Linked DNA regions of Homo sapiens: regions 2 and 3 are each linked to region 1. The links come from fine-mapping of genetic effects on gene expression. A gene starts in region 1. Each other region holds a variant in brackets. All regions are shown on one strand. Distances are from middle to middle. Region 1 holds the start of MS4A8 (membrane spanning 4-domains A8). Region 2 holds the start of MS4A15 (membrane spanning 4-domains A15). Region 3 overlaps LINC00301 (long intergenic non-protein coding RNA 301).

The links.
Region 2: its variant is fine-mapped to the expression of MS4A8 in ovary (GTEx, PIP above 0.99).
Region 3: its variant is fine-mapped to the expression of MS4A8 in pancreas (GTEx, PIP 0.99).

What each region holds. Positions count from the first base shown.
Region 1 is chr11:60,696,059-60,704,247 of GRCh38, forward strand. It overlaps MS4A8 (membrane spanning 4-domains A8), which reads left to right and starts at 3,554. Exons shown (of 7, transcript NM_031457.2): 1 at 3,554-3,717; 2 at 4,802-5,021; 3 at 7,320-7,442. The coding sequence starts at 4,803. It overlaps LOC105369321 (a long non-coding RNA gene), which reads right to left and starts at 7,871. Exons shown (of 6, transcript XR_001748240.2): 1 at 7,681-7,871; 2 at 6,937-6,996. RefSeq lists enhancers at 4,598-5,099, 5,100-5,599.
Region 2 is chr11:60,755,861-60,764,049 of GRCh38, forward strand. It overlaps MS4A15 (membrane spanning 4-domains A15), which reads left to right and starts at 1,007. Exons shown (of 7, transcript NM_001098835.2): 1 at 1,007-1,198; 2 at 7,846-8,098. The coding sequence starts at 7,874. RefSeq lists enhancers at 7,303-7,362, 7,393-7,482. The variant T/C (reference allele first, on the strand shown) is at 3,961.
Region 3 is chr11:60,659,402-60,667,590 of GRCh38, forward strand. It overlaps LINC00301 (long intergenic non-protein coding RNA 301), which reads left to right. Exons shown (of 7, transcript NR_026946.1): 6 at 1,321-1,374. All of the region lies in intron 4 of LOC105369321 (a long non-coding RNA gene), which reads right to left. Among named protein-coding and RNA genes, the nearest start is that of MS4A8, 36 kb to the right of the region's middle. The variant G/A (reference allele first, on the strand shown) is at 4,976.

The sequences.
Region 1 (8,189 bases):
CTACACCTAAAGAAAGAGAAAGACGAGAAAGGCAGCAACACAATAATAGTGGGGGACTTAACCACCCCACTTGCAGCACTAGACAGATCATAGGGAGAAAAAATTAACAAAGAAACATTGGCCTTAAATTGGACTTTAGACCAAATGGATTTAACAGGTATTTGTGCAGTGGTGCAATCTTGGCTCACTGCAACCTCCACTTCCTGGGTTCAAGTGATTCTCCTGCCTCAGCCTCCCAAGTAGCTGGGACTACAGGCATGCACCACCATGCCCGGCTACTTTTTTGTGTTTTTAGTAGAGACGGGGTTTCAGCATGTTGGTCAGGCTGGTCTTGAACTACTGACCTCAGATGATCCACCCTCCTCGGCCTCCCAAAATGCTGGGTTTACAGGCATGAGTCACTGCGCCTGGCCCAGAATATGCATTATTTTTATCAGCACATGGACCATTCCCCAAGATAGACTACATGTTAGGCCACAAAACTAGCCTTAAGAAATTTTTAAAAATTGAAATCATGTCAACTATCTTCTCAGATGACAATGCAATAAAGGTAAAAATCAGTACCAAGAGAAATTTCAGAAAGTATACAAATACATGGAAACTAAACAGCATGCTCCTGAACAATCACTGGGTCAATGAAGAAATTAAGACAGAAATTTAAAATTTTTATGAAATGAAAAGAAAAACACATCTTACCAAAACCTGTGGGATACAGTGAAAGTAGTTCTATGAGGGAAATTTATAGCATTAAATGCCTACATCAAAAAAAGCAGAAAGATGACAAATTAACAGCTTAATATTGTATCTCAAGGATGTAGAGAAACAAGGAGAAATCAAACCCGAAATTGGCAGAAGAAAAAAAAAAAGATCAAGGCAGGACTAAATAAATCAGAAATGAAAAAAGAATAAAAAGGATCAACGAAATGAAAAGTTTGTTCCTTGAAAAGATAAAATTGATAAACCACTAGCTAGACTAATAAAAGGGAGAGAAGATTCAAATAAACACAATCAGAATTGAAAATGAAGACATTACAATTGATACCACAGCAATACAAAAGGCTCTGACATAAGGATTTGGGTGCTTACTTGGGAAGTGACCCAAGACTCACTGTGAAAAAAAATGGAAAAGTGATACCAAAAAAAGGAAGAAAGTCAATAGACTATGTATTAATGAATGAGTTCTGTTATAGGGAACTGGTGCTTAATCCTGTTGGAGACTCTCTAAGAGACAGTTGAAACACACTTCAAAATTATTTCTCTTAGGGGACAGAGAAGCTAGGGTAGTTATCCAGCATATGCACGTTACACTGGATAGGAAAAATTCTTGTGGGATTAACTTCCCAGCACCTATGGCCTGCCCCATACCTATGCATCCTCGGAAAAGAAAGGAGTTGTCCATAGATGTGGAGACTGGCTGAAGATGCAGCATCAATACAGCATTTGCTGCAGAGTTTGCTCAGAGTTTGAGGCTGCAGTGAGCTATGATCACGTTACTGTACTCTAGCTTGAGCAAGACCCTGTCTCAAGACCTCCAGAGTGGATCAAGGGGATATAGATGCTGCATCAACAGCATTTGCTGAAGTAGGTTTGGACAATAATAATCTCCCTTGTATGTCTCCGGTCCCTTCTAGAAAGTTGGCACCACTTCTATAAACTCAATTAAAAGGTGACAAATTTCATCTTCTACAATATCTGGTTAAACCTGGTCCTGAATGTCCCACGTGCACTAGGGCTTAGCCACCTATATGTCCTCATTCAGATGCCTCTTATTATTTCTGTCAATACAGTTTGGTTCATGTTATTCGTCTTTACAAAAAGCTATTGAGTTACTTTATAGAGTTAGACAAATGCTAAAGTTCATTTGGAAAAACAAACATGCAAGAATAGCCATAAAATATAATGAAAAAGGAAAAATTACACAGGAGACTAACCCTACAGGACATTGAAGTACACTGGAAAGCCTCTATAATTAAAACATTGTTGAAATAACACATGAATAGACAAATAGACCAATAGAAAGTAAAAGAAAGACCAGAATTAGAACCAAATGCATATAGAAATTTAGGCTGTGACAAAGGTGGCATTTCAAATGCCGCTGAAGAGAAGATGAGCTATTTAATAAATTGCCCTGGGGCAGCCAGGTAGACTTTTGGAAAAATTTAAAATTAGACCCACATCTCATAGCATTCACAAAAAAATACATTTTACATGTATTAAGAATCAAAATGTAAAAAGTAAAACAATACAAGTATTAGAAGAAAACACAGCTAAATTCCTGTTTAATCTTAGTGTTAGGAAAGGCTTTCAAACAATGACTCAAATGCATAGGTAATAAAAGATAAGACTGATAAATTTTACTACAAAAATTTTTAAAATTTTTCTTGACAGAAAACCACCCTAAACAAAATCAAAAGACACTGTCAAAATTGGAGAATATACCAAAGACAAAGACCTAAAATCCCTAGTATGTAAAGAACTCTTTAAAAATTAAGGGACAAAGGTCCAGGAATCTGATAGAAAAAATGGGTAAAGAAGTAAAATTTGGGTTAGGCATGGTGGCTCACTCCTGTAATCCCTGCACTTTGGGAGGCCGAGGCAGGAGAATCATTTGAGGCCAGGAATTGAAGACCAGCCTGGGCAGCATAGTGAAATCCTGTCTCTACAAAAAATTTTAAGATTTAGCTGGCCACAGTAGTGCGTGCCTGCAGTCCCAGCTATTCAGGAGGCTGAGGCAGGTGGATTGCTTGAGCCTGGGAGTTTGAGGCTGCAGTGAACTATCACTGCACTCCAGCCTGAGCAAGACCCTGTCTCTAAAAAATACAAACAACAACAAAAAAGTGAAGTCTGACTCCAGCTACCTTTTCATCTTTTTTACATTCAATGTCCTTCACTGTGAGCCATTCCCAACATATCTCTACCTTCTCTTCCCCAAGACTTTTCCCTTTCCATACCCTCAACGGTGTTCTTTTTGTTTTGACCATCTTACAATGTTCTAGCCATCCCATCAACTTCATTTGTTCTTCATTGTTCACCTTCTTCAACGGTAAATCTGTCATGGACTATTACATGCAGCTGTTTTTGTACTGTGCAATTCACACGATGTATGTCATAGATATGTGGAATGCCCTCCCATGGATGGCTTCTGATTTTCTATTGGCTCTGACTTGGATGAAAATAGATCTAAGTTGATTACAAGTCTCATTTCACTCGCTGTGATTCTATCCCTTTCTGGACTGCAGTTTATTGATTTCATATGCCACCTTCTGTTTGAAGTCTTCCCTAATCTCTTCAAGTCCAACAAATCATTTTCTCCTCTGTTCTCCTGTGGGGACATTTATCTCTCTTCTGTGGTGTTTATTTCATCCTGTCTCATGTTACAGCTAAATACAGCACACCCTGGGTGCCCAGTTCATTTCTGTGTCTCCCAGAGCAACCAGCCCAACCCTTTCTTCTCCATGGAGATTATACCATAGACTCTTGTCAAATCAAACCATATTTAACTGGCTCATTAACCAAAACAGGAAATAAATACGAATGAAACTGAGCTCTAAGCAGCATGTAACCTGGCCTGCATCCAGGAAATAGAGGACTTCGGATCCTTCTAACCCTACCACCCAACTGGCCCCAGTACATTCATTCTCTCAGGAAAAAAAACAAGGTCCCCACAGCAAAGAAAAGGAATAGGATCAAGAGATACGTGGCTGCTGGCAGAGCAAGGTGAGTCTGCTTAATCTGGTGGTTGGTAACTGGGAGTTGGTGATAAGGTTTTTCTACCAAGTGAGACTTACGGCGAACCAGTGTGGATGAGGGATAGACAGAGTGTATTGTACTAGCTTTATTGAGTCTGCTCCAAGAGAAAGAAAGAGAAAGATAGGACATGGAGGGGGATGGGAGAAACAAAAAGAAAAAGAATTTTTAAAACCACATTAGAATGTATAAGTAGCCTAGAAAATTGAGCAGTGGAAGCCACCCAATGAACAGACACTGCCTTGGCAATGGGGCTTCCCTTGAGAAGGATAATCTCCATTTAACTAATATTGACATACCTGGGACCTTGGAGGATTCTTGTCCACTCTCTCACCCTGTTTCCTTTTCCAGAAAATGAGAGAATTGAACTCAATGTTGTCCAAGAGATTTTCTAGTTCTGAACTTTTGCTTTCAGCCAGTACTAACATATGCAAAGCAGCACTCTAAACACTATGAGAGGCCGGGTGCGGTGGTTCACATCTGTAATCCCAGCACTTTGGGAGGCCGAGGCAAGCGGATCGCCTGAGGTCAGGAGTTCGAGACCAGCCTGGCCAACAGGGGGAAACCCCATCTCTACTAAAAATACAAAAATTAGCTGGGTGTGGTGGCGGGGGCCTGTAATCCCAGATACTCAGGAGGCTGAGGCAGGAGAATTGCTTGAACCTGGGAGGCGGAGGTTGCAGTGAGCCAAGATCGTACCACTGCACTCCAGCCTGGGTGACAGAGCCAGACTCTGTCTCAAAAAAAAATTAAAAAATAAACACTATGAGAGACACAAAGATGGAAAAGATGGACCCCTTGCCCTCTGGTAGCCTTTAGCCTCTTTGAGTCTTAGTTTTCTCATCTGTAAAACTGGGCGGGTGAGAGGATGAAAGGAAATGTATTTGTAAAGCACCTCTTAAGTGCCCTATAACTGATATCTATTATTTGTAACATGGGATTCATAAACTTGTAGAGGGTTAAGATGCTCCAATGAGCTAGAAGAAGCAAAAGTCCTTTTTAAAGGACAAGTCCATATGTGAGGGAAAATTCTCTCGCATTTATTTCTTGGCAGCATGAATTCGATGACTTCAGCAGTTCCGGTGGCCAATTCTGTGTTGGTGGTGGCACCCCACAATGGTTATCCTGTGACCCCAGGAATTATGTCTCACGTGCCCCTGTATCCAAACAGCCAGCCGCAAGTCCACCTAGTTCCTGGGAACCCACCTAGTTTGGTGTCGAATGTGAATGGGCAGCCTGTGCAGAAAGCTCTGAAAGAAGGCAAAACCTTGGGGGTAAGTGAGATTTCCCTTTGCAGGCCACAGACTGCACAGCTGGAGTGATGGCAGGGGGAAGGGAAGGCCTGGGAAATACACAAACACTACATCCCGCAAGTGGGGCTGAGTTGATCGCGCCTTGCCAAGCACAGGTCTATTAGAAAGCTCAGCTGCACAACATCACAGGCGGCCTCTGCTCAGACCTTGTATTTTCTGATTTAGGCATTTTCGGAAAGAGAAAGAAAAGCAACAAAAAAGCAGCACGCTTGAAGGTTGATCCTGTTGCCAGGATCCACGCCCAGCCCTGTGGCCTCTGAAGAAAGGGGTCCCAGCAAGACCAAAATAGACCACAAGGTGGAGTCAGAATCCAATAAGATCGAATCAAATATTTGCCCAACAGGAAACAAAGCAGGTTAGGCAACCAACAACATAAATGGTCACCGCAACCCCTGAGAGGCTGTCCTGCGCTGGACAAAGAAAGGCCCATTTCACTGTGTAGCTGAATGATGGGCATGAATTTGGATGCAGACTGCCCGAGCTCCAACCCTAGCTCCACCCTCAGATAGTGCTCATGGGAACAAAAATTGATACAACCCTTAGGGAGGGAAATTTGTATCTGCCAAATTTACAAAATATCCAATAATTCCATTGCTGGAACTTCATCCTCCAGATATGCCTGTGCCCACAAAAACTGTGATATGTATGAGCTTATTCATTGCAGCGTGGTTTGTGATAACAAAAATATTGTAATATCCATCAATATAATACCGGTTAAGTCAGTATATTGGTTAAGTCAGTGTAATATACTGGTTAAGTCAGTGCATCCAAAGAATAAAATGTAGTGGAGCTATGAAAAGAACAAGAAAGCTCTTTGTGTAATGATAGGGACACACCCCAAGATATGGAGTTAATGGAAGAAAGTAAGGGGCAGACACTGTGTATAATTTGCTTACATTTATGTGAATTTAAGGAAGTAATATATTTGTATTTGCTACCACGTGTGTAATATACAAACATACACAGATGTTCTTTCATTTACAATGGGATTATGTCCCAGTGTACCCATCGTAAATTAAAAATATCATAAGTAAAAAATACATTTAATACATGTAGCCTACCAAACATCATAGCTTAGCCTCGCCTACCTTAAACAAGTTCAGAACACTTAGGTTAGCTTACAGCTGGGCAAAATCATCTAACACAAAGCCTATTTAATAGTGTTCTTGAATATCTAATGTAGTTTACTGAACACTGGACTGAAAATGAAAAGCAGAATGATTGTATGGGTACTCCAAATACGGTTTCTACTGAATTCATGTCACTTTCACACCATAATAAAGTTGAAAACTTTGTTTTTTTGAGACAGAGTCTCACTCTGTCACCCAGGCTGGAGCGCAGTGGCGCAGTCTTGGCTCACTGCAACCTCTGCCTCCTGGGTTTAAGCGATTCTCCCGCCTCAGCCTCCCAAGTAGCTGGGATTACAGGCACCCACCATCATGCCGAGCTAGTTTTTGTATTTTTGTAGAGACAGGGTTTCACCATGTTGGCCAGGCTGGTCTTGAACTCCTGACCTGTGATCCGCCCGTCTCAGCTTCCCAAAGTGCTGAGATTACAGGTGTGAGCCACTGTGCCTGGCCCACATGGCATTTTTTATAAGGACACCAATCATATTGGATTGGAGACCCACTCTACTCCAGTGTGACCTCATCTTGGCTGATTATATCTGCAACAACTCTGTTTTCAAATAGAGTCACATTCTGAGGCACTCAGCATTAGAATTTCAACACATGAATTTGGAGGAGGGTTGGGGGAGGGGAGCATAATTTAACACATAACAATATCCTAAAGAAATAAGAGATGAAGGCAAAGATTTACATAGAAGGATGTTTATCACAATGTTACATATAATAGAAAAAAGTAGAAATAATCTTACCTGTCCAATAACTCTGTCTCAACTACTCCACAGACCATCCATAATGGGATCTGAGCAGCCCTGAAAAAACATATGTTCCAAGAATACTTAATGCCATGAGGACACATTCATGATGAAATATTAAGTTAATAAAATTCAGGGGGCCATGTTGTGCTATCAAGGTATATATTTGAAAAGAATAATGGGAGAATACACCAAAATGTAAACAGTTGTTTTCTCCAGGCGGAGGGGAGATTACAGGTAGTTTTTATTTCATTTTTGTATTTCCCATATTACTTTTTAGACCATGAAAATAAAACATTTATTAAAATTAAAAGGAGGCTCATAGGGGAGGCAGGACCCAGCCTCAGAAACAAGACTTCAGCTTGTGGCTCTCCTGACAGGCCATCCAGATCATCATTGGCCTGGCTCACATCGGCCTCGGCTCCATCATGGCGACGGTTCTCGTAGGGGAATACCTGTCTATTTCATTCTACGGAGGCTTTCCCTTCTGGGGAGGCTTGTGGGTGAGTAACTCAAGTCCTCCTGCCGATGAGCTCCCAGAAGGTGCCAAGGCACTCAAGGCCACCTTGCCAAGTTGTGCAGCTGTGCCCTGCAGAAGGTTCCCAGCCACCCAAATGTGGGGGATAGGAAACCAGCCAGCCCTGGCCTCGTTCCGCAAGCATATTAGTTTGGTAGGGCCGGCCCAACAGAGTATAGCACCACAGGTTGGATGGCTTAAACAACAGAAATTTGTTATCTCACAGTTCTGGCGGCTGAAAGTCTGCGATGGAGATGTTAGCAGATGTTTTCCCCTAAGGTCTCTCTCCTTGGCTTGCAGAAGGTCGTCTTCTCCCTGAGCCTTTCCACGGCCTTCCTCCATGCCTGTGCCCTAGTCTCCTCTTCCTATGAGGACACCAGTCATTTTGGATTAGGGTCCCCCCTGATGACCTCATTTAACCTGAATGACGGTTTTAACAACCCTATCTCCAAACACAGTCAGATTCTGGAGCACTACAGATTAGGGCTTCAATCTACGAAATTTGGTGGGGGATAGAGGGTGTGGACACAATTCAGCCCATAATATCAAGCTACAACCCCGCAAGGTGACATCCCCTCAAAAGGGATGTATTTTCTTTTTACTTTTTTTTTTTTTTTTTTTTTTGAGATGGAGTCTCACTCTGTCGCCCAAGCTGGAGCGCAGTGGTGCAATCTCGGCTCACCGCAACCTCCCCCTCCCGGATTCAAGCAATTCTCCTGCCTCAGCCTCCCTA
Region 2 (8,189 bases), 60 kb after region 1:
ATGTGTCCTTTTCGCTCTATTTCTCTGCATAGGGTCCAACGCTGTCCCTTGCCCCCTTTGTTCACCAATATAGGTCAGACCTATCACAAAATAAATGGCACAGAGGCTTCCTGAAGACACACATATTTTGAGCACAGAACAGTGAGGCTGAGCCCTTATCAGCCAAGAGCGCTTGCAGAACCACAGAGAATCTGCTGCACAATCTGCAAGCTGGTGCTCTCCCGAGCATGCATAGTAGGTCTCAGAGCACTGGGAAGCAATGCACATCCACGGTCCATTGTAAGTCACTGGCTTAGATATGTTATATTTAACAAAACATCTCAGCCGCATCGTGTTATAACAAGTCACGTTGTAAGGGATGGATTTTATCAAGTTGGTGTGTGTTTCCCACCAAACTCTATGAGATTGGTATTATCCCTATTTCACAGGTAAGGAAACTGAGGCAGAGGGTGACCCTCTCGCTCCCGTGCCTCACAGTAACAAGAGGAGCCAGAATTCAAACCCTGGCTTCTATCTCAGACCCTTACACTGAACTGGTAAACTCCTCACACACCCATGCCAACAAGAAGGATGACTGTTTTCGATCTCATTGTATAATCTGGCAGATTCAGCACTCTGTTGTTTCCTGGTAAGCTCATCTCCTGACACCTGGGTAATGGGTGTTTTTTCCCAAAGTGTTTGCCCAGGCCAGCCACACCTAAAGTGTTGGGGTACATGGCAACATATCCAAGCTTATGTACGTGGCATTTGAGGTCAGGGCATGGAAAAATACGGAGGCACTGTGTGTATGTTATTTGTGCATAAGAATGTAACTCCTTGGCCCTAAAAACAGGACAAGGAGTGAAGTGTGTCATAAGGAACGCTGAAAACAGCCTCCTAAGAATGTGGTTTGAGAGCTTTTGCAAGGCCGCAGGTGTCTCATGACCCCACCTCAAAAAGCCATCTAGTGGATGTTTGTGGTTTAACAATCCCTTTCAATAAATACTTGGCGGACAGATGCTAGGGCAGGCTCTCACAAGGGCGGGCTCTCAGAAGAGCTGCCCCCACCCCCTCTCCCAGCCCCCTTCAGCTGAAATTGTCTAAGAACTCATTCTTGGCGTTCACTGCAAGCTATAAGCTCTGCAAGTGGTGACCCCGACGTGATCGCCTTGAAGTTACGCTTGAAGGAGGAAAACTCATCAATTTTCGGGGAATCCCGGTAAGGGACAGTCCTGACTCCCGTCAGGAGGATGGGACCCACGCGTAAAATATCAGGGGTTGGATTATCATGGGTCAAGAAATGACCAAAGAACAGAAAGTGTTTTTTAAAAACAGTGCGACAGCTACTTAAGGCTAACCAGTGCACTGCAGAGCCTGGAGCTCTACACAACGCTATGATCTTAATTCGGCAGGAATGCCCTTGGTTTCCTGATCAAGGAACCTTAGACTTGAGTTATGGAGCAGGTAGGTCACTGCCTGAAAACAGGATGTGAGCAAGGTCATTTTACTGAGGTTATTGTTTTGACCACCTGGGCGCCGGTACACTCGGTGTTGTATCCTCTTTATCTGCCAGATTGCAGTGGGTCAGACCGCCCGTCTTTGCCTGAAGGGAATTCAGGAGGTTTAAAGGAGAAGGAAGAACAGGAGCCAACCAGGACAGCGGGAGGCGGGCGGGGGGTCCTCTCTCTACTTCATTCCCTTCTGTAGGGCATAAGGAGGATATTTTTTTCTAGTGATCATGAGGACGGACCGGAGCCTTTTCCTCCCCCTATAGAAAAGCCATTGCCCTCTTTTCCTCCACCCTTAAAGGGACCTGTATTCGTTGGCCCCGTTCAGGCAATGGCGCCTCCCATCCCCCTTGAGGAGTCTGGAGGCCGCCCAAGAGATGGTTCTTGGATAAGACCTCCAGTCAGTGAATATCTATATGATCGGGTGGCCGTGTCCTCAACGCCAACTCCTCGTCAAACTTTCTTAGTAGAGGGGTGCCTCCAAGAGGGACTTAGGAAGGGAGACTCTGAGGCGCTTTTTGGCGCATTCCCTGTTATTGTTCAAAGCAACAGGAGATGGCATGAGAGTTTGCCTTTTACTGTCTTTAAAGAGTTAAAGAAAAGTATCCGTGAAAACAGTGTACATTCACCGTTTACGAAGGAGGTGATTGAGGCTCTGGGAAATGGCTATAAGATGACTCCACATGATTGGAAAACTTTGGTAAATGTTTTGGTTTCAGCTGCAGAATATACTGTGTGGTGGAGTGAGTACAGTGATTTAGCCATGCAGCAGTCCTTGCAAAATTTGGATAATAATATCCCGATACAACTTGATATGCTATTGGGAACAGGGCCTTTTGCTTCAGCTCAGACTCAGGGTCAAGCAGGTGGCCATCTATTTCCTCAATGCTCACAGCTAGCAATACAAACATAAAAAAAAAAAATCCCGTAAGACAATCCCAGGGTTCCTTTATAACAGTTAAACAAGGTGCCACAGAAACATACATTAAATTTATCAACCGACTGCAAGCTGCAATTGAAAAACAGGTATCCCATCCTAAGGCTACCAAACTTCTTATGTTACAATTGGCTTTTGAAAAAGCAAATAAGGATTGTCAGACAGCAATAACTCCAGTCTAAGCCACTGCCACTGAAATCAGTGTGTTTATTAAAGCATGCCAAAATATAGGCACTACAACTCATCTGACTCAAACTTTTGCTGCAATAATGACCGGAACCACATATTGTAATTGTGACCTAACCAGGCATATGGCAAAAATAACCCTGCTACTGTTTTCCTACCTTTAAGCAAAAAACAATTTCATACTCTTCTAGCTTGTGCTCTTGATTGGCAAATCGCAATAGCTGACTTTATTGGTAATATCAGCTTTCATTTACCAGCCTCTAAGCTCCTGAACTTTTTACAAACTGTGCCTGTTAAATTTGTATCTATTGTTGTTTCTGAGCCCTTGCTTCATGCCACTACTGTCTTTACAGATGGTTTAGGAAAAACTGGAAGAGCAGCTACAGTGTGGCAATAGGCCATGCAAAAATGGCAGCACAAAATCCAGGAACATTTTAAAACCACGCAACAGGCAGAGTTAGGTGCCCTGATATTGGCCTTACAAACTTTTCCTCACCAAGACATAAACATAGTTAGTGATTCCGCTTATGCGGTGTGTAGTATTACTCATTTAGATCTTGCACATGTGAAGGGCATTACTAATGAACCCCTACTAGCTTTGTTTCTTGCAGCGTAAGAGCTCCTCTGTGACCATCATTGTGGGGAAAAGAAAGAGAGATCAGACTGTTACTGTGCCTATGTAGAAAAGGAAGACAAAAGAAACTCCATTTTGATCTGTACAAAGAAAAATTGTTATGCTTTGAGACGCTGTTAACCTGTAACTTTAGCCCCAACCCTGTGCTCACAGAAACATGTGCTGTACTGAATCAAGGTTTAAGGGATTTAGGGGTATGCAGGATGTGCCTTGTTAACTATATGTTTGCAGACAGTATGCTTGGTAAAAGTCATCGCCATTCTCCATTCTCTATTAACCAGGGACACGATGCACTGCGGAAAGCCGCAGGGACCTCTGCCCAAGAAAGCCTGGGTGTTGTCCAAGGTTTCCCCCGACTGAGACAGCCCGAGATATGGCCTCGTGGGATTGGAAAGACCTTACCATCCCCTAGCCCGACACCCGTAAAGGGTCTGTGCTGAGGAGGATTAGTAAAAGAGGAAGGCCTCTTTGTGGTTGAGATAAGAGGAAGTCCTCTGTTTCCCACATGTCCCTGGGAATGGAATGTCTCGGTGTAAAGCCGACTATTCGTTCTATTCTGAGATAGGAGAAAACTGCCCTGTGGCTGGAGGCGAGATATGCTGGCAGCAATACTGCTCTGTTACTCTTTACTAACTGAGATGTTTGGGTAAAGAGAAACATAAATCTAGCCTACGTGCACATCTGGGCACAGTACCTTCCCTTGAACTTATTTATGA[T/C]GCAGATTCCCTTACTCACATGTTTTCCTGCTGACCTTCTCCCCACCATCACCCTGTTCACCCTGTTCTTCTGCCGCACCCCCCATGCCAAGATAGTGAAAATAGTAATCAATAAACCCTGAGGGAACTCGGAGACCGGCGCCGGTGCAGTTCCTCGCATGCTGAGTGTGCCGGACCCCTGGGCCCACCGTTCTTTCTCTGTACTTTGTGTCTTATTTCTTTTCTCAGTCTCTTGTCTCCACCTGACGAGAAATACCCACAGGTGTGGAGGGGCAAGCCCCCTTCGATCATCACCCTCTTTACATCACACATATTCACTCTCATTCTGGGCTACCTGGTCCCTTATCAGAAGGGAACGCTCGAGCTAATGCTCTGGTACACACACAGATGTGGTTTGCAGACTCTCCTGCTTTTTTGCGAATTCAAGCTGATCATGCTTTTTTTCCATCAGAACGCCTGCAGTCTTAAACAACAGTTTCATTTAACACTTGCTCAAGCTCACATGATTATTAAAACTTATCCTGATTGCCAATGGCATTCTCTTTCCCCTTTTTCCTTAGGACTTGGTGCCAACCCACGAGGTCTGGTGCCTAATGCTATCTGGCAAACTGATGTTACTCAGTATCCACCCTTTGGACGTTTTAAATCTCTCCATGTTACTGTGGACACTTATATAGACCTAATACATGCTATCCCCATGCCGGAGAAAAAACTAAAGATGCAGTTGCTCATTTGTTTGAATCTATTATGACTCCAGGCCTTCCACAAACTGTAAAACTGATAATGGCCCCTGCTATCTTAGTGCTCACTTTGGCTATGCATTGCAACTTTGGCAATAAGATCAACATACAACCCAAGACTGGGATTCTCTGTAACTCAACCAGTCAGGCCATTATTAAACAAGCTCATCAAACTCGTAAAGTATATCTTAATAAACAAAAAAGGGGGAATATCGGGCCCTCTTCTCGAGAACAGGACCTGTCATTGGAGAATCGACTGACAATGACGGTGATGACTCAGAAGGCACCTGACATTACCTGGGGACAGCTAAAGAAATTGGATCAACAGGCAACTATCCGGCTTGCAGGCATAGAAGCCTCTGTAACTGCAGAGAATCAGTTTCTTATGTATCTGGGGGTAATTGGGAAAACTTCTGAGAAAGTAAGACGACATAGATGTTGGGGTGGCTGGTAATTCTTGTCCTTTGCCAAGTGGGATCACCTCAAGAACATGTTTACTGGAGTCATGTTCTAAATCCCCCTGTTTTTAATGTTATTTCATGGTGGGATGCTGACCTGCCTTTGTCATCTAATGATACTTCTTGGACGAGAGGTCGATGGATGCCCCTGTCTTACCCTTCAGTGGAAAATTTGGGATGGATTAAACTTAATAACTCCTTGGTTGTATTGTCTAGTAATCCCCCTCTTTGTTTTTCCACAATAGCACATGCTAAGTGTGTTACTCTTATTCTTCAGGAGTATCTTTACTATCAGTGTAAAAGGGATGCTAAGCTTGCAAACTTGACCTTTATTTCTGCTATTACCACTAATCTTACTGAGGTCTCTAATGAAGCTACACAAGTGCCTGATCTTCCTATATGCCGTCTGAGTAGGGACTGGGGATATAAGTTTGAGGCCATTCAGTGGTCTCCATCCAGACAGCCTGCGCCATGTCAAGGGCCTCTGTTTGATAATGGCACCTTACTTGATTGGAGTCCCCATGGTTATCTTATGTCTGCAAATCAGACTATTGGATCTGGGAGTCCCCAGTAAGTCTATCACCTGGTCAGAGTACAGGCTTTCAGGACCAATATTACAACTAAAAGGGAAACAAGCTTTAAGCCCTGCTCATACCCAAATTTGGAGATTAGAACTTCCTTTTTTTGAATGGGTTCTTTCACATGATGAGTATATTACTAGCAGTGGCAATTATACCCTCTGTTTCCATAATAATGTTACTGACATAGTTGTGATTTGTACTACGCACTCTTATATACTTTTGTTTGGGCAAAGTGTTCCTAATATAGAGCAGAATCAATCCTTTTATAGTAGTAAAGTCTCTTCCAGTAGTTAGTATGCTACATGCCTGTCTCATCGAAATGTTACATAGTTAAATATAACCTATGTCATGATCTTAAAATGGCGTGCAGAATTTTGGCTGCCTGTAAATTTAGCCTGGAGCTGGGAAGGAGATTCAACCCTGCAGCTGTTTAGAAAAGCACTGTCTCATACTCAGAAAAAAAGATTTCTGGCCACTTTAATTGCTTTTTTAGTCTCAGCTATTATTATATTAGCAACTGCTGCTACTGCAGCTGCTTTTTCTAACAAAATCTATTCACACAGCTTCAGTGGTGAACCACATGGTATATAATGTAACCCATAAATTTCAAAAACAGGTAAATATTAATCAAACTACTCTGTCTCACCTGGAGGCTCTTAAAGCTGCAGTTGAATGGCTGGGGGATCAGCAGCTGGCATTCATTACCCATCAACATTTATATTGTAATTGGCAATATAATTCTATCTATGTCACACCTCTGCCATATAATAGCTCCCAATATGCTTGGGAGAGAGTGAAAACACACCTGCAAGGGGCTTATCACAATCATTAGTCTTCTCAAATTCCCACTCTTAAGTGTAAATTTAAAAAACAACTTAAAAAATGGTCACAGCAATTATAAACAAATACCCTTCAACAATTATAAAAAGGCTTTCAATAGTTAAACCCAAACACTTAGTTATCTGGGTTAAACATACACATTTGGGTAATGGCCAATATACTTATTCTTTTTTGTATTTGTTTGCTAGGTATGTACAAATGGCTCTGTGCTGTCACTCAGTGCATCTATAACCAAGAAAAAGCAATAAAAGCTTACCTCGCTTTAAATAACCAACATACTCTAAAAATTAAAGAAGGGGGAGATGTTGAGGGTGCACGGCAACATATCCAAGCTTATGTACATGGCATTTGAGGTTGGGGCATGGAAAAATACTGAGGCACTCTGTGTATGTTATTTATGCATGAGAATGTAACTCCTTGACCCTAAAAACAGGACAAGGATTGAGGTGTGTAATAAGGAACGCTGAAAACAGCCTCCTAAGAAGGTGGTTTGAGAGCTTTTATAAGGTCATAGGTGTCTCATGACCCTCAAAAAGCCATCTAGTGGATGTTTGTGGTTTAACAAGCTCTTTCAATAAATACTTGGCGGACAGATGCTGGGGTGGACTCTCTCAGAAGAGCTCCCCGCCACCCCCGCTCGAGGCCCACTCAGCTGGAATTGTCTAAGAACTCATTCTTGGCATTCACTGCAAGCTATAAACTCTGCATAAAGTTTCCATATCTACACATTTCTTGGCTACATCAATGGTAATTGCTTGGGTGGCCAAATAGAAAGCTTCCCACAGCAGGTGGGAAGTTCCCATACCCAGGGGAATTATTGACGCTAGCTCAATAGTTGAGAGCTGAGAGGCAGGAAGTGGCAGTGAGTCCTGGTCTCGGGGTGAAGAAACCGGTACTCTAGCTAAGCTCTACCTTGCACTAGCTGTGTGTCCTTAGGTAAGTCACTTGCCCTTTCTGGGAAAAGAAGGGCATTTAAATAAACACTCCTCCAAAAGGAGCTTTCCACATAATATAGCTCAGAGATTAAGAGCAAGGCCTCTGAAACCAGAGAGACTAGAATTCAAATCTCAGTCTTACCCCACCTACAGGCCCTTGACCTCAGACATCTTTCGCTTCTCTGAGTCTCAGCTTCCCCAGCTTTGATGAGAGCGTTTGGGGCCATACTGGCAGGGCTGCAGTAAGCAAGGGAAGTAGGCACGTTGCTTATCAACTAAAAAGCTTTATGCACATGGGTGACAATCATCATTGCCATTATTATCTCCCAAGCCTTTGTTTCCCAGGCTCTCTGAGCACGATGTCTGCAGCTCCCGCCAGCAATGGAGTGTTTGTTGTCATCCCGCCAAACAACGCCAGTGGCCTCTGCCCACCTCCGGCCATTCTGCCCACATCCATGTGCCAACCTCCAGGGATTATGCAGTTTGAGGAGCCACCGCTGGGGGCACAGACACCAAGGGCCACACAGCCACCTGACTTGCGGCCCGTGGAGACATTCCTGACAGGAGAGCCCAAAGTTTTGGGGGTAAGAACAGCCTCTCTGCACAACCTGAGGCAGGTAGTGAGTATCCCAGCACCGGAACATTCATGCATGTTTTGGAGAGGGGAGAAGGCAG
Region 3 (8,189 bases), 37 kb before region 1:
GAGTTTTATTACCTCCTTACCCACAACTTTGTACTTTTCAACCAAAAACAGGGCTTCAAGGGAGAGAAGATTTAGTATAACACATTCCCTTTTGCTTTGTGAAAAGGCCTCTGAGACATCCCTGTACAGTCATTTCACCCAGAGAAGGGCCTGGTGATCTCTGCTCTGGATAAAAGACATTATTTTCTCTAAGGCTTTCTTATAGTGGGAGTCCTCAAGTGGAAGACATTTACAAACACCGAGAACTTTCTGGAAAGAGTGTATGTAATAAAGACAAATCATTTAAACTGAAATAATACAATTAATCACTTATTGCAAATCATCTAGAAAGAATCCTCAGCCCAAGATATGAAAGAGGAGCATATGACAGATATTTAGCCATAGATAATAATTACTCAATTTTATACCTATTATGTATCAGGCATCTCCAAAAGGCACTCCAAGTTCATTTTACCTTAATTGCCACGACAACCCCATGAGATAGCTATCATTCATCTCCATTTGACAAACAGGGAAACTGAGGCTTGGAGAACTTAAGTGACTCTCACAGAGTGACACAGCAATGAAGTGTCAGAGGTAAAAACAAACAAACACAAGCTAAGATGATTCTGCCTTCATGACAGGATTTCATTTTCCTGGGCTGAAGGATCCCCAGTCCCCTTCTTAGTATGTTTGAATCATCTTTTGTTATTGCCGCAGGCAGATTGAAGACAGGTATATGATTTACTGGAAAAAAATTAATTCTTGGTATTCCAGAAACAACAATCCTTTCAATTAGTGCCAGAAGGTGATGATAGCACTTAGGGTATGATATTTGTGGAAGGCAACCTATAAATCTTCAGATGTAATGTTTTCTGAAACTATTCCCACTGATGAAATTTTTTTTATAACATTATGGGAGAAACGTAGTTCTTGCAAGTGAGAGCCACCACACTAGCCACTAGGAAATATTTTCTAATAATTCATTTCAAGGGATCAATAAATGACAATTAAAACAAGTGAAGTGCCTACAACTTGTCCTCATAAAATCATTGTGAGCTCCCTAAGTCCCATCACCTATGCAAAGGTCTCATTAATGACCGGAGACTTTAAAACATTTTTCATCCCTATAACAGAGAAATAGTGAATCCATGCTTTAGAAATTGTACTAGCGGTCACTACAGACTTCGAATGGGGTTTTTCATGTTAAAATCACTTTCTTCAGAAATGCATTCAGTGCCACTTTGGATATTAGGAATGCCACTGGCTCTAGGGAAAGAAGCTATTGAGGGGATTATCATAAGGCATTGTGTGTTTATAAATGCTTATTTCTATCCCCAGTTCATCAACTCAGGATCCAGTAGTGTAATACAGAAGCCTGTTACGAGATATAAGGTATGTCAGAATATTCGGAGCAACTCTAAAGATTAAAATGTTACTTGGTGCAAACAAACAAAAAAAGAAATTATTGCTGGGCCAACATTTTTGGGGAAAAAAAACTTTTCCAAATGTTTAAATGAAAAAAAATTATTTAATTTTTGTAAAGATATCCTCCAGTGCATCCTCTGTGCATGAATGTTGGAGGAGGATACAGTGTGAGCAATAATATTGTATACAGAGACAGACGTGAGAGTTTCCATGAAATAAATCATTTCAAGCTATCTCAACGAGCATATATAACCAAATAAAACTTAAGACAAGGCCTTACTCTGTCACCCAGGCTGGTGTGCAGTGGGTGATCACAGCTCAATGCAACCTGGAGCTCCTGGGCTCAAGTGATCCTCCAGCCTCTGCCTCCCAAATAGCTGGGACTGCAGGTGTGTGCCACCACACCTGGTTTTTTCATTTTTTGCAGAGATAAGGGTCTTGCTATGTTTCCCAGGCTGGTTTTGGACTCCTGGCCTCAAGGCATACTCCTGCCTTGGTCTCCGAAAGTGCAGGGATTATAGACATGAGCCACTAAACCTAGCCACCAAACAAAACTTCGACCCTGAGAATCAAAGCATTGGGAAGCGAAGAAATGTAATTAGGATAAGATTAGAAAATTAGTGTCTAGTTAAGGAGAATGGATAAGACAAAATAATGTGTGAAAAGAGAATTGCCTTCAGCAAAACCAGGTCAGGAAATATCAATTAGAACACAAACCAGATATCATGACAACACATCTAACGAAGGATGGTCCTTTTTCTTTTAGAACTTCCCTCCTGTCTCTCACAGCCCCCCTTGTGATTAGGATCACAGCTCTGGAGGCAGATAGCCTGAATTTTCCAATTCTGACTGCCTTACTAGTGCCTGTGTAACCCTGAGCAAATTACTTTACTCTGTGCCTCACTCTCCTCATTTAAAAAATAAAATGTGGTTAATAATAGTAACTGCCTCAAAGGGTTGCTGTGAGGATTAAATTAGTATGTAAGCATAAAGAACAGTACCTGGGGCCACACAGGGTGGCTCATGCCTATAATCTCAGCCCTTTGGGAAGCCAAAGGCAGGTGGATCAGCTGAAGTCGCGTGTTCGAGACCAGCCTGGTCAACATGGCAAAGCCCCGTCTCTACTAAAAATACAAAAATTAGCTGGGTGTGATGGCGCACGTCTGTAATCCCAGCTACTCAGGAGGCTGAGGCACGAGAATCGCTTGAACCTGGGAGGCAAAGGTTGCCGTGAGCTGAGATCCTGCCACTGCTCTCCAGCCTGAGTGACAGAGCAAGTCTCCATCTCAAGAAAAAAGAACAGTAACTGGCACAAAGATACCACTCTGCTTATCAAAACCCGCTGAGAAAAAACAGGTGGATTCTCCTCTTTCCCCAGGGGAAAATCTGCTTTCAGGGACTGGTAAGAGAAGAAATTGAAATTGTATTTCATATTTCAGATAAAGGGGTCCTCCTATTTTTTCTTTCAGTAGAATAGGGTCAGAGTGGTATGAGAGGCCATTTTTCTCAGCCCCAGATTGGAAGCTATAATTATGGGCATTAAGCTATTACACTTTTTTTAACTTCTATTCCCAAGGTAGCCACTGTTAATATCATTTTTCATTCTAGGCCTTTTTCTAAGCTTTTTTTTTTTTTTTTTTTTTGTAATTTGTTTGCAAGCAGAGTGAACATGTGACTTAGAAGTCACCTGGTGTTGCTTTTCCACGGAAAACCTTACATCCACAGAGATATAAGTACAGATGACATGAAAGCCCATAAAGCCCCCATGTGATTTGGTAAACTCCCAGAACTAGCATTCTCATAGTTTAGTTTCTGTATTGGTGCATACTGTCCCAAATTTTCTCCACAACACCCAAAGAAACAGTTGTGAATAAACTCAGCCCCTTGACTGATTTTCACAAAAACTCACAAAAAGTTTTGGGTTTTTTTACTCGAGGATTGGTGGGGGAAGATTATGATTGTAATTTCCAAGTTCCAGTCACAACCTAGATCCCTTTGTAACTCTCTCCCTAATCCCCATCACTCCGTCTTCTGCCCTTCTTTTTCCATCTCCCCACTCCACCTCAATCAATCAATCTATACATATACATATATGTGTGTGTGTGTGTGTGTGTGTGTGTGTAGATATATATATATATAATTTGCTGCATGTCAGGCATGTTCTATGTATGTAGGATGCATCAGTGAACAAACAGATGAAAATTTATTACCCTTAGGGAGCTTACATTCTAATAGCAGGATAAAAGCAATAACAATAAACAGGACAAACAGGGAAATAATATAATATGTTAGAAGGTGATAGGTGTGATGAAAAAAAGAAAACGTAATAAGGGCTGCCATAGTTTCGTCTTGAACATTTGGACGGATTCAGTTGAGAATCTTAGACATGAAGATATTTAAAGCCAGGAGACTTGTTGAGATCTCCAGTGGAAAGAACACAACAAAGACGAAAAGAGAAACAAGAACTGAGCCCTAGGGCACTCCAACATGAAAAATAGAAAAAAGGGGAGAAAATAATAATTTTTTTACTTGAAAAGTTTCTTGGTTTAATCATGTTCTAAAGAGTAAAATATTATATCTTATTCGTGTGCATGTTTTCAAGTTAAAGCAGAAAATAAATGTAGAATATATGTTTTTGTTTGAATTTTTTTTTTTGTTTTTTGCTTGTTTGTTTGTTTTTTGAGACAGAATCTTGCTCTGTTACCCAGGCTGGAGTGCAGTGGTGCAGTCTCAGCTCACTGCAACCTCTGCCTCCCAGGTACAAGCAATCCTCCCAACTCAGCCTCCCAAGTAGCTGGGACTACAGGCTCCCACCACCACGCCCTGCTAATTTTTGTATTTTTAGTGGAGACGGTGTTTCATCATATTGGCCAGGCTGGTCTCAAACTCCTGACCTCAAGTGATCTACCCACTTCAGCCTCCCAAAATGCTGGAATTACAGTCATTAGCCACCGTGCCCCACCAGAATATATGTCTTTTGTACCATAATTTTTAAATTGTTTTTTCAAACAATATACATTAAGTGACTTCCTTTTGGGGTGCAGATATTTGAGTTCAGGAACTTTTTTCTGAAAACATATATATTTATTTTCATGTAAACCTGGGAAAATCTTTAGCTGTCTATGTAAGTATTATCTTAATTGATTCTTTTCTTAAGCATACAACTCAATAGTTTTTAGTATATTCACTGATATGTGCAATTATTAACACAGTCCATTCAAAAACATTTTCATCACCTCAAAAAGCAACTCTGTACCCCTTGGCTATCACTCCCATCCCCAACTTCCCATTCTCCCCAACCTTAGGCAGCCACTAATCTACATAGGGTCTCCATATATTTTCCTACTCCAGACATTTCATTAAAAATGAATCACATCATATGTAATTTCTTGTTAACTGGCTTATTTCACTCAATATATTGTGGTAAAAGTTCACTCATGTTGTAGCATATATCAGTACTTTATTCTTTTTATGACTAAACATTTCTATACACCATAACATTCAAGCTGAGAGTCAAATCAAGAATGCAATTGCATTTACAATAGCCACAAAAGTAATAAAATACCTA[G/A]AAATACATCTAACCAAGGAGGTGAAAGATCTCTACAAGGAAAACTAGTTAATACAAAATATTGCTTAAAGAAATCATATATGACACAAACAAATGGAAAAACATTTTATACTCATGGATTAGAAGAATCAAAATCATTAAAATGGCCATACTGCGCAAAGCAAGCTACAGATTCAATGCTATTTCTATCAAACCACCAATTATCATTTTTAGCACAATTAGAAAAAGTATTTCTAAAATTCATATGGAATCAAAAAAGAACCCAAATAGCAAAAGCAATCTTAATCAAAAGGAATAAAGCCAGAAGCATCCACATTACCTGACTTCAAAGTATACTACAAGGGTATAGTAACTAACCAGTACCATGCTGGTACTGGTGCAAAAACAGGCACATAGATCAGTGGAACCAAATAGAGAATTTGGAAATACATCTGCACACCCAAAACCAACTTATATTCAACAAAGTCAACAAAAATAAGCAATTGGGTAAGGATTCCCCATTCAGTAATGGTGCTGGGATAAGTGGCCATCCATATACAGAATAATAAAACCGAACCCTCAAAAGCAATTGCAACAAAAACAAAAATTGACAAATGGGACCTAATTAAACTAAAGACTTTCTGCACAGCAAAAAAAAGAAACTATTAAACTAAACAGACAACCTGCAGAATGGGAGAAAATATTTGCAAACTATACGTCCTACAAAGGACAAATACTCAGAATCTATAAGTAACTTAAACAATTCAACAAGCAAAAAACAAATAACCAAATTAAAAAGTGGGCAAATGACATGAACAGTCACTTCTTAAAAAGAAGACATACAAGCAGCCAACAAACATGAAAAATGCTTAATATCACTAATTGTCAGGAAAATGTAAACCAAAACCAAATGAGATAACATCTCATACCAGTCAGAATGGCTATTACTAAAAAGTCAAAAAATAGATATTGGTGAGAATGCGGACAAAAGGAACACTTATACACTGCTGGTGGAAAAGTAAATTAGCTCAGTCCCTATGGAAAGCATCTGGAAATTTCTAAAGAACTAAAAATAAAACTACCACTTGACCCAGCAATCCCATTACTGCATATACACCCAAAGGAAAATAAATCATTTTACCAAAAAGACATGCATTTACATGTTCATCACAGCACTATTCACAATAGCAAAGACATGGGATAAATCCAGGTGCCCATCAATGGTGAATTGGGTAAAGAAAATGTGATATATATATATATATACATATATATATATATATATATATATATATATATATATATATATATATATGCATACCATGGAATACTACACAGCCATAAAAAAGAGTGAAATCATGTCCTTTGCAGCAATATGGATGCAGCTGGAGGCCATTGTCCTAGGTGAATTAATGCAGAAACAGAAAACCAAATGCCAGTGGGGTTATAATAAGTGGGAGCAAAACGTTGGGTACATATGCACATAAAGATAAGAAAATAGACATTGATGAATGCTACTGGGGGAAGGCAGGAGGGAAGAAAGTTTTAAAAACTACCTCTTGGGTACTAACTGGGTGATGGGATCAATCATACCCCAAACCTCAGCATTATAAAATACACCCAAATAACAAAACTGTACATATGCCCCCTGAATCTAAAATGAAAGTTGAATTTTTTTTAAAGAACGTGAATAGATATTGTTTTATTTCTATAGTTTATTCAGAAATAAATCTGCACACCCACAACCAACTGGTATTCAACAAAGTCAACAAAAATAAGCAATGGGGTAAGGAGTCCCTATTCAATAATGGTGCTGGGATCATTGGCCATCCATACACAGAATAATAAAACTGGACCCTCTGAATGCCTTTTGGGTTTTCTTTACTGCCGAACTGCCCTGGTTAGAATTTCTAATACAAGGTTGAATAGATATAATGAGAGTATATCTCACCGTCTTATTCCTCATGAAAGCATTGAGTCTTTCACCAATAGGTGTGTTAGGTGTGGATTTTTATTAGATGCTCCTTATCAGGTTGAGAAAGATCCCATCTATTTTGAGTATTTTGAGTGTTTTTATCATAAAACAGTGAAGAATTTTCACCAAATGCTTTGTCTACATCAATTGAGATGATCATATGTGTGTTTTTCTATTTTACTGATATGGCATATGACATTAATTGTATAAGATAAAACCAGCCTTGCATTTGTGGAATAAATCACACTTGCTTACAGTGTACAAGCATACCTCGTTTTATTGTGCTTTGCTATATTGCACCTCACAGATAATGAGGTTTTTTACAAAGTGAAGGTTTATAATAACACTGCATCAAGCAAAGCTGTTTCTTCAACATCACGTGCTCACTTCATGTCTCCGTGTCACCTTTTAGTAATTCTCACAATATTTCAAACTTTTTTATGATTATTATATTTGTCATAGTGATCTGTGATCAGTGACCTTTATGATTATTATATTTGTCATAGTGATCTGTGATTGGTGACCTTCGATATTAACATTGTTATTGTTTTGGCATACCATAAACTGTGTCTATATAAGACAACAAATTTAATTGATAAATATGTGCGTTCTGACTGCTCTACCAACCACACTTACCCTTGTCTCTCTCCATCTCCTTGGGCTTCTCTATTTTCTAATATACAACAACATTGAAATTAGGCCAATTAATTATATTTGTCATAGTGATCTGTGATCAGTGACCTTTATGATTATTATATTTGTCATAGTGATCTGTGATCGGTGACCTTTGATATTAACATTGTTATTGTTTTGGCATACCATAAACTGTGTCTATATAAGATAACAAATTTAATTGATAAATATGTGTGTTCTGACTGCTCTACCAACCATCCTTACCCCTGTCTCTCTCCATCTCCTTGGGCTTCTCTATTTTCTGAGATACAACAACATTGAAATTAGGCCAATTAATAACCATACAATGGCCTCTAAATTTTAAGTGAAAAGAAGAGCCACACATCTCTCTCTTAAGTCAAAAGTTATAAATGATTAAGCTTATGAGGAAGGCATATAGAAAGGTGAGATAGGCCAAAGTTAATCCTCTTGCACCCAACCATTAACATAGGTGTGAATGTAAAGGAAAAATTCTTGAAGGAAATTAAAAGTGCTGCTTGAGTTAACACACAAGTGATAAGAAAACAAAACAAGCTTGTTGCTGATGTGGAGAAAGTTTTAGTTGTCTGGACAGATCAAACCAACTACAGC